Homo sapiens: one gene and its partner. The protein of the gene in region 2 interacts with the protein of the main gene of each other region in a pairwise test. Each region holds a gene or a part of one and is shown on either strand. Other genes may lie near its edges.

What was found. The genes of interacting proteins can lie anywhere in the genome.
Region 1: the proteins of MTSS2 (region 2) and SCAF1 interact in binary tests that used the Homo sapiens proteins (3 or more experiments, as listed by UniProt).

What each region holds. Positions count from the first base shown.
Region 1 is NC_000019.10:49,652,189-49,659,142, reverse strand, and holds the end of SCAF1 (splicing factor, arginine/serine-rich 19), read right to left. Parts: coding exon 5,438-6,954; intron 4,795-5,437; coding exon 4,712-4,794; intron 4,492-4,711; coding exon 4,273-4,491; intron 1,383-4,272; coding exon 1,254-1,382; intron 936-1,253; coding exon 744-935; 3' UTR 501-743; downstream 1-500.
Region 2 is NC_000016.10:70,683,034-70,691,027, forward strand, and holds the start of MTSS2 (protein MTSS 2), read right to left. Parts: upstream 3,021-7,994; 5' UTR 2,759-3,020; coding exon 2,690-2,758; intron 1,043-2,689; exon of another isoform or gene 1,021-1,042; coding exon of another isoform or gene 877-1,020; intron 1-876. UniProt on the Homo sapiens protein: Involved in plasma membrane dynamics. Potentiated PDGF-mediated formation of membrane ruffles and lamellipodia in fibroblasts, acting via RAC1 activation. May function in actin bundling.

The DNA of each region.
Region 1 (6,954 bases), on a different chromosome or scaffold from region 2:
CTCTCCTGGTTGGGCCGCAGTTCTGGGTGATGAAACTGGCAGAAGCCAGCGCAGCCCTGACTCACCCTTCGGCCCTTGCTGCTCTGTGCCTCAGTTTCCCTCTCAGGACAGTTGATGAGATCACCCCAGCTTCACGGGGCTGCTGAAAAGAGAAGCCAACTCAATGGGGAACACAGATCCTGCTCTGGGAGCAATTCCAAGGCAGGCACATGGCACCCAGGAGCCGAGCTGGGAAGATGCTGATCAGGTGGGGTCCGGCCCCTGCCTCCCTGTGAGCAGCTCGCTCCCAGCCAGAGACTGTGCTAAGTGCTCCACCTGTGTCTTGTTCAATCATCACAACACCCACTACACAGATAAGAAAACTGAGGCCCAGGGGAGGCAGCTGCCCCAAGTCACAGTCTGGTCTCTGTCTCCCATCCTCAGCCTCCTGGGGGTCCCTCCCCAACCCTCTGGCAAATTTGTCTCCGAAAACAAAGGGTTAGAACCATGGGGCTCAGGGGTAATGTTTCATGAAATCTTTAATGAAATTGGGGAGAGGGGCACAAACAGAAGGGAGGGGCACTGGGGACAGGCTTGGGGGCAAGGGAGGTGGACACGGGGCAGGGCAGGGCAGGGGGCTCTCCTCTTCCCTGCAGCAACCCTCCCCCAGTCATCCCACTGACGGGGGAGGGAGGTGGGGAGGTGGAGCCATAAATACGTCCAGAGTTTCAAAGAGGTGAGGGGCGAAGAGCTGGCCAGGGCTCTCAGAGAGGGGGCAGGGGCAGGCCCGGGCCACCCTTGTCTGGGGGCCCTGGCTCCTTGGGCGGCCGTGGGGGCCCTGGGGGGTCCCCTGGCTTGCGACCGTGCTTGCGGAAGTAGCGGTAGCGCTGGACGTAGGCCCGCACCAGGTTGCTCACCTTCACTGGGTTGATTTCCCCACTTTTGCTGTGGCAGATCTGGGGGGCCGGGGACAGTTGGAGTCACCACCAGGCTCCCGGGGCCCCATCCACCCAGGACTGTTGGGCGCAGCTTGGAACTGCGGTAGGAGGAGCTTCCCCAATAACCAGGCCAAAGTCCCTCTGTCCCCCTAGACGATGGGTGCCCCAGGGCCAGCGGAACAGGCCCAGGTGGCCTTGAGAAAATCCTGTCACCCTCCTCACCTCCCAGACTGACCTCCTCCCCGTCTCCCATCCGCGTCCATCTGTCTGCACACATCTGTCCCTCCAGCTCGTTCTCTCCCCGGCCTGTGTCTGCCCCTCTCTCCGGGTGCCCACCTTGTGGACGGCCTTCCTCAGGATGTCCTTGTACTCCTCCTTGGTGATGTCCTTCTTCTGATAGTATGGCTTGATGGCCAGCTTCACCTCCTCCACCGCCCGCTCCTGCGTGTGCAGCTTCTTCAGATACTGGTGGGGTGGCGACAGCGGGGGAAGACACAGCAAGGGCCAGTGAGTACCTGCGGAACCTCCACCTCCACTCGCCTCTGCTGCCAGCCTAACCTCTCTGGCCGTCCAGCTGCTCTCAGGCTGGAAGTCCTGCTGAGGGTCTGTCCCATGCGCCCTCTGCTGCAGGTGCCCGGGACCAAAGGCCAGGCCTGGGCCTCTGCATGTCACTGAACATCTCCTCCAGGCCGAACCCTGGGCTGCTCCAGGCCTGGCCGGGACCAGGACATGTGTGTCGCCTGCCCTCACAAAGTTCAGTCTGATGAGAAGACAGGCATTGGCCAAGAAATTGCAGCTGGTTTTGAATCAGACTCTAGAGGCGGGGCTGTAGAAAACTGCACAGGGCTTTTCACCGCGGGAGCGGGGAGGACTCAGTTTAGGTTTTTACAGTACTGCTCTGGTCACCCAGGGGATGGAGGGGGTGGCTAGGGGTGAGGGGCACTGGGGAGTGGGGGTGGGGACTGACCTTGAGCCCATTTGTATCAGAAGCCTGGTCTGCCACTCCCTGTCTCTGACCCCTGGGATGCTCAGCCAAACCTTTTTGTGGCTCCTTTTTTGTTTCTTTGTTTTTGAGACAGGGTCTCTCATTGTCATGCAGGCTGGAGTGCAGTGGCACAATCACTGCTCACTGTACCCCTGGTCTCCTGGGCTAAAGCGATCTTCCCACCTCAGCCTCCTGAATAGCTGGGACTAGATGTGCCACCCCCACGCCTGGCTAATTCTTGTACTTTTTGTGGCGACTAGGTCTCACTATGTTGCCCAAGCTGATCTTGAACTCCTGGGCTCAAGCGATTCACCCGCCTCGGCCTTGCGAAGTGTTGGAATTACAGGCATGAGCCACCGTGCCTGGCCACCTTTGTGGCTCATTTGTAAAACGGGGACAGCACCTATGGGCAGTACTACAGCGACACACATGGAGGACATGGCACAGGCTGGGTACAGAGCAAAGACTCAATCCAGGGGAGCTGTGCCTGTTCCAAGGGGGATGGCCATGGGATGAAAAGGGGAGGACGCAACAGGGACAGGGCAGAGAGCCTCCGAGGCAAGGCTCTTCCCGCCTGTGGCCAGCAAGCTAGGAGATCCCGCAGCCGCAGGCTCGGGGCAGCAGCTGCAGCCCTGGCCTCAGGCAGAATCCTTGCAAAAGCAGACAGGAAACCTCTAGCCAGAGAGCCACGTGGGACCAGAGAAGAACAGGCCTTCTGCAGGCACAAGGGACAGTCCCTTGGCACCACCCTTGGAGAAGCTGCCCTCCCAAGCCAGGTGACTATCAAAGTAGGGGCAGGTAAACTGAGTCCTGGGAAGGGCAGGGCACAATGGCTAGCCGACTCCAGGAGCAACATCAGTGACACTGTCTGACGAGCTACTGAGCTGTTAGGGAACTCTGTGGCCAGAAGAGACACAGGCTGCCCTGGAGGGACTTCTCAGGCTTGCCTGGCCCCACAGGATGTGGGTCTCTAGAGAGACGCTGCTCCCCAACACCCATCTCGGATGGGCAAAGCGGGGCAAAGGGCAGAGCACAGACCAGGGCAGAGCAAGGGCCACTGTAGACCAGGGGGTCCTCACCGTCCGAGTCCTGCAGCGCAAGGCACAAGCTACGGACAAGTGACCGACTAAACTGCAGCCCCGCCTCTGCGGCTCACACAGGATGTTTAATGGGGTTTATACAGCTTTATCTGGCACGGTACACAGCTGTGTAAGGGTGGCCAACGTCACCGTCTGGCTATGGGCTACTAGACTGTAAGAAAACACATCTAGGCTGGGTGCAGTGGCTCATGCCTATAATCCCAGCACTTTGGGAGGCTGAGGTGGGAGAATCACTTGAGCTCAGGAATTTGAGACCAGCCTGGGCAACATAGTGAGACCCCAACTCTACAAAAAATTAAGAAATGAGCTGGGCATGGTGGCGCGTGCCTGTAGTCCTAGCTACACAGGATGCTGACGTAGGAGGATCCCTTGAGCCCGAGAGATCAAGGCTGAGGCTACAGTGAGCTGTGACTGTGCCACTGCATGCCAGCTTGGGTGACAAAGCGAGACCCTGTCTCAAAAACCAACCAACCAAGGCCGGGCACGGTGGCTCACACCTGTAATCCCTGCACTTTGGGAGGCCGAGGCTGGCAGATCACCTGAGGTCAGGAGTCAAGACCAGCCTGGCCAACGTGGTGAAATGCCGTCTCTACTAAAAATACAAAAATTAGCTGGGTGTGGTGGCGGGTGCCTGTCATCCCAGCTACTCGGGAGGCTGAGGTAGGAGAATCACTTGAACCCTGGAGGCGGAGGCTGCAGTGAGCCGAGATGGCACCATTGCACTCCAGACCAGGTGACAGAGCAAGACTCCATCTCAAAGAAAAACAAAAACAAAAACCCACATCTAGACCTGACCAAGAGAGAAACAGCTCCAGAGCCCAGGAGTAGGAGCCGGCCAGAGCAGCTGAGTAAGAACCTACATTACTGTCTGCCTGGCACCCATTCTCCCCTGCTTCATCTACAAACAGGTTCTTGAGTTTTCATTCGGAAACCACCCTCCCCCACTCACAGAGACGGAGACAGCGCGAGCAACAGATAATCAAGGGGTGGGCTGCAGCGCGGGGCATCTCTTCCAGGGTGTGTATATGTGGTGTGTACGCACACAGCCCCACACACGCACAGACGCGATTTTCCTTTGGACACGCCTAACGCATTTCCTGCTCACCCATTCCAGCAAAGTGGAGTTCCTTATGGTTCCATGACTTTGGTCTCTACGGCCCTGTCTCCCTGCCTCAGTCTCCCTTTCTCCTTGGGCCCCCGCGTCTCAGTTCCTGTCCATATTCTCTACAGAACTGTCAGCACCGCCCCACCTCTCCCCAGGCCAGCTCACCTTATCTGTGTCCCCACGGCCCTCAGAGCTGCTGCTGCCCTCTCTCTTGTCAGACGTGGCAGCCAGCCCGGTGGGGGTGGGGGGGGTCGAACCGCAGCCCCCCAGAGGGAGGCTGCCAGGAAGCAGGTAGCTGGAGGGGCCAGGGGGCAGACCCAAAGAGGTGGGCACAGGAGCTGGGGTCATCCCCAGACTTGAGGGTGGCTTTCTGTGGCTGAGGATCTGTGGGACGAGGACAGAGGGGTGATGAGTAAAGGGAGGTGGAGGGGAAGAGGGGACGTGCACCCCACTGTTCCCACGCTGACTTCCCCACAGCTGAGGCAACAGGCTCCTCTTCAGGCCGATACCTTGCCCCAGAGCTGCCAGGCCCGCGGTTCCTCTCCTAACCCGAGGCAATGGACAAAAGAAGGGGCGGCAGGGACTCTCCCCCAGGGGAGCCCACCTGGTTGGTGGCCTGGATCAGCTCCTGGGCCTTCGCTCGGCTCGCCAGGTTGGCTTCTTCCATCTTGAAGAGAAGTGCAGTCACTGCAGGAGGCAGAGAGGTGACAACATGAAGATGGGAGAGGTGACAGGACAGGAGCTGGTGAACCTCACCTGGACACCTGCTGTCATCTCCTGCCCTTGGCCCCAGAACAGCCACAAAGCCTCACGCTCAGAACTGGGAAAAGGGGGCCTTGGCCAATGAGAGAACAGCCCATACCACGAATGTTCTTGGGACTCCAGGTGTGTGGGTGCGGGGTTGGCCAGGGTCATGCAGTGATGAGACAGTGGCAGGAGTGAGATTCTGCCTCCTGACCCGCTGTGGCCAGTCCCAACCTCTCTCCCCACCTCTGCAGTCTGGTAGAGGCAACCGCCATCCGTAAGGAATACGATGCCCTGCTCAAGCCATTCTTTCTGGTCCCTCTCTCCTACTCCCCGTCTAGGGGAATCCCAGAACCCAGCCCACCACTCCAGTCTGTGCTGGCCACCACCTGCTCTCACCGGCCCCTCTCTCCCAGTACACCCAGGCACCTAGAGCCTGGCTGGCCTTTACTCACCCCCACCCTCCCAGTCTATGTCCCTATAAACCTCTCCCTGCCAGGGCACCCCACTGCCTCTAAGTCTGTACCCTCCAGTCCCCATCCTGTCTCACCTGCCCCAGCACCACCCTCCCCCAGGGGACACTCACAGGCCAGGACGCCGCTGGTGGTGCAGTCCACACCAGCTGGCAGATTCCAGGGCATGGGCGGGGGCAACGTGGGCAGCTGGGAGACACGGGAAGCTGGCCCGTCCTCCGCCCCCGAGTCACCGGCTGTGGACCCCGCGCTGGGGGCAGTGCTTGGGGCGGCTGCAGCAGTGCTGGTGGCCGTGGTGGTAGCAGGCTGCTGCTCCTCCTCCTCTTCCTCTTCCTCCTCCTCTTCTTCTTCCTCCTCCTCCTCCTCCGCCCCACCTCGGACCCCAGCCTCCTCAGTGGCCTCCTCGGGCAGGAAGGAGACCTCAGGTGTCTTGCAGCTGCTGTCCACGGTCTGCGAGTCCGGAGTGAGGGCAGGGGGTGGTGGGGCTGCCTTGGGGGGCGGGGTGCTAGGAACCTTGGCTGCCCGCTCCTCCCCGGACCAGGAAGTCTCCTCCGCCCCCTTGGTGCCTGCCGCCTGGCTGCAGCTATCCGCCTTGGACTTCTTCAGCGACACCTGGCCACCACTGCCCCCGCTGCCACCTCCACTGCGGACCTTTTTCCTGGTCTTGGATGGCTTGGTCTTTCCCTTGGTCCCCTTGGTTTTCTTGGCCCCTGCCTTGGCCTTGACCTTGGTCTTTTTGGGCTTGGTGCTGCCCGGAGCTGCTTTGGCCATCTCAGTGGGGGCCCGCTCGTCAGGTTTGAGGAAGGGGGAGCGACTCTCGCGGTCACGGCTGAATTTGACGCCAATGGAGCCCAGGCCGGCTGACGCGGCATCCTTGGCCGGGGTGGTGCTGCTGACACCCTCGCGGATCAGCACCGCCACCTTGGACTGCAGCTTCACCTTCCGGGAAGAACAGGAGGACGACGAGGATGAAGAGCCTGAGCCGCTGCTGACTGGTGGCTTTGGCGGGGGCCCTGAGGAAGGCGCCGACTCCTTGGGGGGCCGGGCCTTCTTGGATGACCTGTCCCTGTCCCTATCTCTGTCCCTGTCCCGATCCCGGTCACCCCCGTCCAGCGCCTTCCGACGAGACCCCTTCTCCCGGGAAGAGGAGGAGGAGGAGGCGGCCCCCGAGCGGCGCCGATCCTTCTGGCTGCTCTTGCCGCCCCGCTCCTCGCCGCTCAGTCCCTCGGAGTCGTACAGGACCTCCCGCTTAGGTGAGGAGGCCGGAGCAGGAGAGGGTCCTCGGGGGTCGGACTTGTCAAGCCGGCCCACCGTGATGGTCCGCTTGATGGCGAAGAGGTCGTGGTCCGTGAGGTCCTGGATGGAGGGTGGCACGGCCCCCCGGCGGCGGCTGTCGCGGTCACCACACGAGGTGGAGCCAGAGGGCGGCGGGGCGGGCGCCGGGGCCTTCTCGCTGCCATCCCCAGACCGCTTCTCACCCCGGGACCGCGACCGCTTCTTCTTCTTCTTGCTGCCGCCACCGTCCCGGTGTTTCCCGCGGTGCCGCTCGCGCCTCGAGGACGACGATGAGGAAGTGGCCGGGGGCGGGGAGGCGGAGCGCCGCCGCCGTCGCCGCTTCTCCCGGGACCGC
Region 2 (7,994 bases):
TGTGAGAGACACCCAGTTCTGCCCCAAGCACAGTGGCTGCTCTGGAGTGGGGAGGTGAGGGGCTTCTCATTAGAGGCGCCCAAGTGGACAGGGATGAGGGGACTCTGTCTCTGTCCCGGCAGTGGCTGTGGTTCAGATGTGGAGTGTGGGTGAGCAATCCAGCCTCCAATCCCAGGGAGTGGGCTTTCCAGGTGCCCCTGGGCAAGGGCCCCCTGTCTGAGCCTCAGTTTCTTCACCTGTAAAATCAGGAGAGGAGGAGCACCTGCCCCACTGGGTCAGTGTGGAAATTGAAGCAGGTGCTGCTCAGCCAGCACTCCTCGCAGCGCCCAGCACGCAGTAAGTGCTCAGTTAACACCAGCTAACAGTACGCAAGCCCTGCCCTCTGCAGGGGCCCCTAGCAGAGGCCTGGCCAGGCCTATGTGTCCAGGTGACATTCCCCACTCTTGAGGGGTGGGTGAAGAGTATGACCCCATTTTCTGGCTGGGCCAGCACTGGGTGGAGGCCCCATTCACCTTGCTGAAGGTGCCGTGCCCAGAACTATGACCTTTGGCAAGTCTCTGCCCCTCTCTGGGTTTCAATGGGCAGCCTGACACCAGTGGGCATCTGACCTTGGCCCCCGCTCAGCCCAAGGTCAGGGCCTCCCAGAGGCCCAGGGGAGGGCTTCTGTGGGGCCTGTGGACTCACTGTGGGGTGGCCTCACGGGGCAAGCTCAGTCTCCTCAACCTGGCTGCTGATGGCCGCCCTTCCTCTACGGAGGCCCTGCTGCTCAGGCCACCGAGGGGAAAATCCAGAAGCTGCCCCCGCAAATCCAGGTGGTCAGCTTCCAGGTGGCCTCATCCCCTTCTCTGCCCCTGGTCATGGCCCCTGAACACATGCCTGTGTCATAGGTAGGGGCGAATCTGTCCTTGGCATCATCCCAGGTGAAGCCTCTCCTGTTTTGCCTCCACATGTCAGCAAATCATGCCCGATGTCTGGCTTGAACCTCTTGCTATGATCTGGGCCCACTTCCTTCTGTCTCATCCCAAAGTTCCTTGCAAATTGGCTGGAGAGGGAGAGAGACTGTCCTAGTCCACTTCCACGAGCAAAATCTGCTGCTCTCTGCAGTGGTTGCTATGAGGCTGCCAGTGGTGGTGGGTGGTGGGGTGCGGGAAGGCCCATCCGGAGCCAGCTCTGGGATCGGCCAGGGGAGGGTGGTCTGTGTTGCCCAGTCCCTTAACAGGATCCTGGGGCCAGGGCTGTGATGTCCACAGGACAGGTGGGGACTGCTGGGGGCCAGCGGAGGGGCCCAGATGTACAGTTGCAAGAGATGGGGGTCCCAGGGGGAGTGCACCATGAGGGGCAGGGGGTGGGGGGCATCTACAAGCCGCTAACTGGGTAGTCCCAGGCCAGGCTGGCTTCAGGCCTCTTCCGGGGGCAGAGATCTGGCAGCTGTCCCTGGGGCTGTTGTCCTGGCAGCACCGGGAGCCTCGAACTCCAACCTGCCAGCAACCCCCACCCCTCACGGGGCCTGTCCTAGCAGCACTGTACTGGGTGGTGTCACCCCCATCCCTGGCCTGGTGGGATTCTGTGTTGTGCACTTGGAGAATCTGCGCTGGGCTGTGGGGGTGGGGGCCCTTGGGAGATCCTGTGGGGTGCCTCGTTCTTTCCCCTTCTCCCAGCCCCCAAATCCTGCCCCTTCATCCTAGGCTAAGGAAAGGGGGCACGGCAGGAGGGCAGGAATACTGGTTCCTGGCCCCCACCCTATCACTGGAGCTGGGCCCTCTCTGCCTAGTCAGCGTAGGGCAGCCCTGCCAAACCCTGGCCTCATTTGGGGAGAGGAACCCACTAATTTTCCCAGGAGGAAAAATGGGGGCTGAGGTCAGGGGAAGGGTCCAATAGTCTCCTTAGTGACCTTGAGCCATTTCCAGGCCTCAGTTTCCCCACCTGGTGGGGTGAGGAATGAATGGGTGGTTGGATCCAGCCTGACCTTAAGCAATCCTGGGAGACAAGGAGGGCTCGGAGCTGAGAGCCCAGGGTGGTAATGGGGTAGGAAAAGCGCTTCCTTGGGGTTGCTCCACCGACCCCAACCTTCATCCCGCCTCCTCCCAAGGTGATGATCAAGGCCTATCCTTGGGATGCAGGGACATTCAGCCTGGAGACCTTGGAGTCCTGGAGCTTCCTGGGGCTGTGGGGGTGGGGCGGGGCTGGGGGACGCAGTCTCACGGTCGGGTGCAGAGGCCTAGGTCGGCGGGGAAGGAGTTAACGGTTCTCCGCTTTATTATTTTTTCCTGCTTTGGCGGTGACAGCATTGTCTGGGCTCCGGGGCCGTGGGGGAACATGGTGGTGGAAGGGGGCGGAGGCCGGTAAGACCCCGGACTCGTTAAAGGGCCCTAGAGTCGGTCCTGGATCCAAACCCCATTCATGGTTTGGCGGTCTGGGGCGCAGGGAGCCTGCGTGTGCACAGGCTCGGGTCAGGACCCCACGGGGCCACCGCGGGCACCGCACGGACACCCCGACACACGAGCACCCACACCCCCAGACGGGCACCCGGAGACACGGGCGCCCAGCAGACGCAGGCAGGACGCGCTCAGACAAGGACACACAGACACCGCGGCGCGCGGCCACACGAGGCTCGGCCACCCGCCGCCACGCGTCCCCGGGGGGTCCCGCACCCGTCGCCGCGCGCCCGGCCCCGCCGCGCCCCGGTTACCTTCATGTCGTTGACTATGGCCTGGAAGAGCCCGCCCAGGGCGCCGCACTCCTTCTCCGCCGTCTCCATGCTCTGGCTGGGCCGGGCCGCGGCGGCGGCTAGGCGCACGGAGCGCGGGGAGCAGCGCAAGGGAGGGGGCCAGGCCGCGCGGGCGCTCGCTCCGAGGCCGGGCCGGGCCTCCCGCCTCCAGGCTGCGCTCAGCGGCCGGCCGCGCCGCGCTCCGGGGTCGCGGGCCTCCGGCGGGCGGCGCGGGCCATGTCGCAGCGGGGCTGGCGGGCGGCGCGGGGGGCGCGGCGCGGGCAGCTCGCGGCGCAGCCTCGGCGCGGGGACTGACGGCGGCGGTAATCCGAGCCGCCGAGGATCGGGCGTCACGTGGGCGCGGCGGAGGGGGGACCGCGAGGAGGGAGGGAAGGAGGGCGGGCCGCGCGGGAGGGGGCTGTGGGAACGGCCGCGCGGGCGCAGGCCCATTCACGGCCAGAAACCAGGGCTTTGAAATCCGAGCCCGGGCGCTGCCAGACTGGTCCGGCGAGCGGGGCCGACGGGCGCGGGCGCCACCGAGGGTCGGGGGGCGGCGCTGGGCGGGGCCCGCCCTGCCCACGCAGGAGCGGGACTGGCGGTTGGGCCTCGGCCCCCGGGCAGGGGCTCCACGATATCTTCTGGCCTTTGGTCTGGGGCGGGGGGCTTCTCGCGCTTCTAAAGACAGGCAGTGGGTACAGTGGCGGGATGGGGTCGGTGCATGGGCTGGATGGGTGGCATACACCGCACACAGCAGGGCGCGGGGTATCGTGGAGCCGCCCGCCTTGGGACGTTTCATCGCAGGCACAGACCTTCCTCAAGTTCGGACCCTTCCAAGTTCCTTGGCTCCTTCTCCAAGTGGTGCCGATGCCACCCGGATGGGGTGCCCAAGGCTGGGCATTTGGGGGGCAGTGGTAGTCTCCTGGGCCTTGAACAACCTCCTTCTTCGCGGGTGGGGGCTAATGTCGGACCTGCAGAGCAGAGCTGGAGTGTCCTTGGTCTCTGCTGCCTGAGTCCACGGTGGGTGCGATGCACACACGTGCATGGGGTAGCAATGTCAATCGCAGCCTGTCCTGGAGACTCCAGGCAGGGAAACCCACCCTGGGGGGCAGCACGATGGGGGAGCGCACTCTGGGGAAGAGCAGGCACAAGCTCCTTCTCGCCTACTCCATGGGCCGGAGGGAGCCAATTACAAGCTCATTAGGAGACCAAGCCCAGGGTTCCCAAAGCCTGGGGACAGGTGGTACCACTCCCGGTGAGGAAGGGCTTTCAGCTGCAGCAGTGGTTGGGGCACCTGCCCCTCCCTGGACTGCTCTGGGCTTTTCCTCCCCTTGCCCCGAGATCTGCAAAGTGTTCTGCAGTGTGCATTGCCCTTTCATCCAGGAACTCCTGGGGCTCAGCTCCCATGTCCCCAGTGGGGAACTCCCATTGCCCCAGGGAGTCAGGATGAGAAAGGCAGATTGGGGAAGGCAGGGTTCAGGATTCCAGGGCAGGCAGTGCATGGTGCTCTCCAGGAGGGTGCAGGTTCCAGAGGTGGGGACCTAGGCTCTAGGCCCATGGCTCCACTCAGGTGAGTGCAGGGACCAGGCCCTGGGGCAGCCAGTACTCCTTGGGGCCATCATGAAACCCGATCTCCAGGACAGAGGGTGAGGCCCCCGGACAGCTGCACGTGTCAGCTGGGAAGGAGCAGGCCGGCTCGGGTTGAGGGTTTTCTGTTATTTCTTTATTGGGGTGGGGGTGGGGTGCATCATTCAGATCTTTGTGCTGGTGCCTACGTGCATACAAGTACACACACACACACACACACACAGGCATGTGTTCACGTATGTATACATATACACACAAGGCCAGAGCTCTAGTGTGCTGGAGGAGGGGCAAGCTCTTTTTCCAAGAGGGTATTAGAAAGAGGTTGATTCCAGAGGATGAGTGGTCTCTGAGGCTATAGCCCCCCACTGGGTGGGCAGCCAGCTCTGTGAGAATGCCAGGGTGCAGCTGACAGCGCTGGAGGCCTGGGGACTGGACTCTGAGAGGAGCTTGGGCAGACACAGCAGCCTCCGGCCCCAACACTGCCCTGGGTTGGCAGGCCCAGCCCTGGTCCTGACAGGCAGGTCCTTGAGCTCCTCGGGAGGGCGTGACGACCCTTAGTGTTTCATGGGACCACTCGGTGGGCCCTCCTCCGTGCCAGGCCTGTCAGAGGACAACCCTCCGGTCCAGGTGGTCCCCACGCCCGCTCCGCTGGTGCCGCACTTCCAGGTGCTTGTTCTGGACCTTCTCAAAGTGCTGCAGCAGCTCTGCGTAGTCGATGCTAGGGGAGTCAGCTTTCTGGGACTTGGGGGCTGCCTTTAGACTGTCTCTGGGAAGAGGGAGCAGAAATGCTCAGTGTCAGGGATCAGCTCACAGGGGGGTTACTGCTGGAGGGCAGTGGGGTCAGAGGCAGAGCCACAGGCTGGTGGGCTCGGCCTGTGGGCGTCTGTCTCAGGCCTGGCAACTCTTCCGTCATGGCGGGCCCCAGAGCTGGGAAGCCCCTGAGCATCCCCCTCTTCCGCAGTTGGTGGGAACAGCTAACACTGCTGCTTGGCTATTGCCCTCGGCCTGTGGGCTGGCGATGGCGCCCAGAGCAGGCATCGCATTGGGAAGCATTTCCTGTTTACGAGTGGCTCCCTTTGGGGTGAAAGCCAGGGCTAGCAGCCAGCCAGGAAGCCAGCTGGGGCCTGGAACAGGGTCTGGGGAGAAGGGGGAGGTGGCAGCTTGGCCCTTTCTCTGAGAGGCAGGGCTAGGACTGGGGAAAATGGGAATTGCTGAAGAGCCTCTGCCGGGCCCTCCACTTGGCAGGACATTTGTTTTTGAGTGTTGGGGCCCCAAGGCCTGCAGTCACTCACTGTCCCTGGGAGGAGGAATGCCGGTCTCACCACTGGACATGCCTACAGCTCCTACATTCCTGTTGCTGCCACCCTCTCCAGTTGCTCTGTACAGCAACACAGGTTGTGCACTGCACAGCTAGTGTGCATGATGCTCCCTATAATGGTGCAATGCGGTAGCCTTGCTGTCCCTGTCAAGCCCAGTGCTTAGCTTGCCCCTGGCGATGAGATCCCCTTGGGCTCCTGTCCTGTTCCTACTCACCCTCCAGCAGTGTCTCATGAAATGTTCTGCTCCCTCCCTTTGGCCTCACTGGTTTGGAGGAGCAGATCCATGTGGGCTAGGAAGTATCTGTTTCCAGGCCCTGAGGCCTGGTGGACCTGGGAAGGGGTCTCAGGAAGACTGTGGGCTGCTCAGCTAAGCAGAGAGTCTTGGGGCCCTTCAAGTTTATGAAAAGATGCCAATCGGCGGGGCCGGGAAGGGGGGTGCAGGCACTGGCAGAGCACAGGATCTAGACAGACCTGGACCCAACCATAACTCCACCGCTTCCTAGCGGTGTGACTTGAGCATGTGACTGTTTCCTCATCTGCAAAGCGAGGGCTACCTAAGGAGCGGCCCTGGGGTGGCTGCCAAGATGCCTTGACACGATGTGTAAGAGCTTCACCTGGTATCCAGCCCCAGCTTAGGTATCTGGCAGGTGCCACTGTGGCTACAGTTCTGCCCCTCCAACGTGAGGCCAGCCGGGGCCCAGCAGCTTGAGGGTGGAAATAAAGGAGGCCATTTTGGGGGAGACAAAAAGGAGCTCCCCCAAAACGAACTCTTGGCCATGAGTTCAGTCCAGCAGGAAGAGTCAACGGCCAGAGCCTGACAGTTGCTTCAGGTGGCCACCAGCCTGCTGGGCAGGACCAGGGCAGGGGGACTCTTCCCACAGTTGAGATGCCATCTGGGGCCCGGAGGCGGCCTCCTGCACCCCTGCTCAGCTCTGCCTGCCCACACCTGTTCCCTTCCCGCCTCCCTGCTGAAGATGCACCACCAGAAAACATCTTGGACATGTCTACGGCTGCGGCTGCTGCTTTTCTGGGCCTGGCGCTCCTGGCTCCCTAGCGGGGCTCAGCTGACTTTAGTTCAACAAAGATCAAAAGCAGCTGGGCGGGGCCATTCTAGAGGGCCAGGCTGTGGGCAGTGTTCTAGGCTGTGGTTGCTACTGGGAAGGGACCTCCCAGGCACAGTAACCTTGGGAACCAGGTGCCACTGCTCCAAGAGAGCAGCTTGGACTTCTAAGGAGGCCAAGGGCCACCCCGGAGCTTGCAGCCCTAAGTCCAGGGTGTGGCCAGACGCTCCTCTAACCCACTTAGGCCAAGGCCACAGGTGTGACCCTAAAGTGTGTCTTCTGATGCTGGGCACCCACAGGTCTGTGCGTTGCTCCCCATGACACTCCTGGCAAGCCAAGGCCTTAGGTTAGGGGAGCTTAGGGGCCTTTAGAGAGATGCTCTCAGCACTGGATGGCAAACCCGGGAAGATGGCGTCGGTGTGGCAGGGTTGGTCGGGGTGGGAAGAGTGGGCCACATCTGCTCCCTGGGCCCTTAGGGTGGCAAGAAGTCCTGCTCCCTGTGATGGGCAGACCCTTCCTGGCCTGAGATCTTGGGAGCAGGGCGGGCTGTGTCACCGGGGGTGGGTGACACTGCCTGGGCTGCTGAGCACAGAGGCCAGGCCCGCTCTCCCTGCCCCACCTAATGCAGATGGCTGCTCTCAGGCCCTGCACATCTTCTGTAGGTCCATAACCACCCTCGGGCACCGAGGCTGAGGCCAGCCAGCCCACAGCACAGTGTGGCAAGTCCAGGACTCAGGGCCGGCTCTCACTCTTGCCATCCCACCCATGCACCTGTTGCCAGCTTTTTCTTAGAGGTTCCCTCCTGCCTTACTGAGGAGACAGTCACTGGGGAGTGGCCCAGAAGCCAGGGGGTGGGGGAGCTGAGGTCCCCAGGGCCTTGATGGCACTTGGAGCACACAGAACCAGGGATGGGCGAGGAGTGTACAAAACTCTCCCAGCTGTTCCCAGCTCCAAGGCCTGCCCCGCAACTCGACCCTGTCTGCCAGCTGTCTGCCCCTCCCAGGGCTGGGACTGTCCTCAGCTCCCTTCCCAGGGTGTGAGCCGTCCTCTGGGCCCCACCCTGCAATCTGACCCCTCCCCCAGCTGTTCTGAAGTCCCCTGGCATGCCCACTGCTTCTGTGCCCCTATCTATGGTATCTCTTCCTAGGTCGTTGCAAAGTAAGGCTGGGGGTCCAGGGCATTGAAGGCTAGGGGGTGTCTCACACACCCATTTAGTCCAAATGTGCATTTACTGACCAAGTAACCAAGAACCCAGAGAGGGCACTGGGCTTGCTGGAGGTCACACAACAAATCCATGGCAGAGCTCACACCAGATCCTACTCT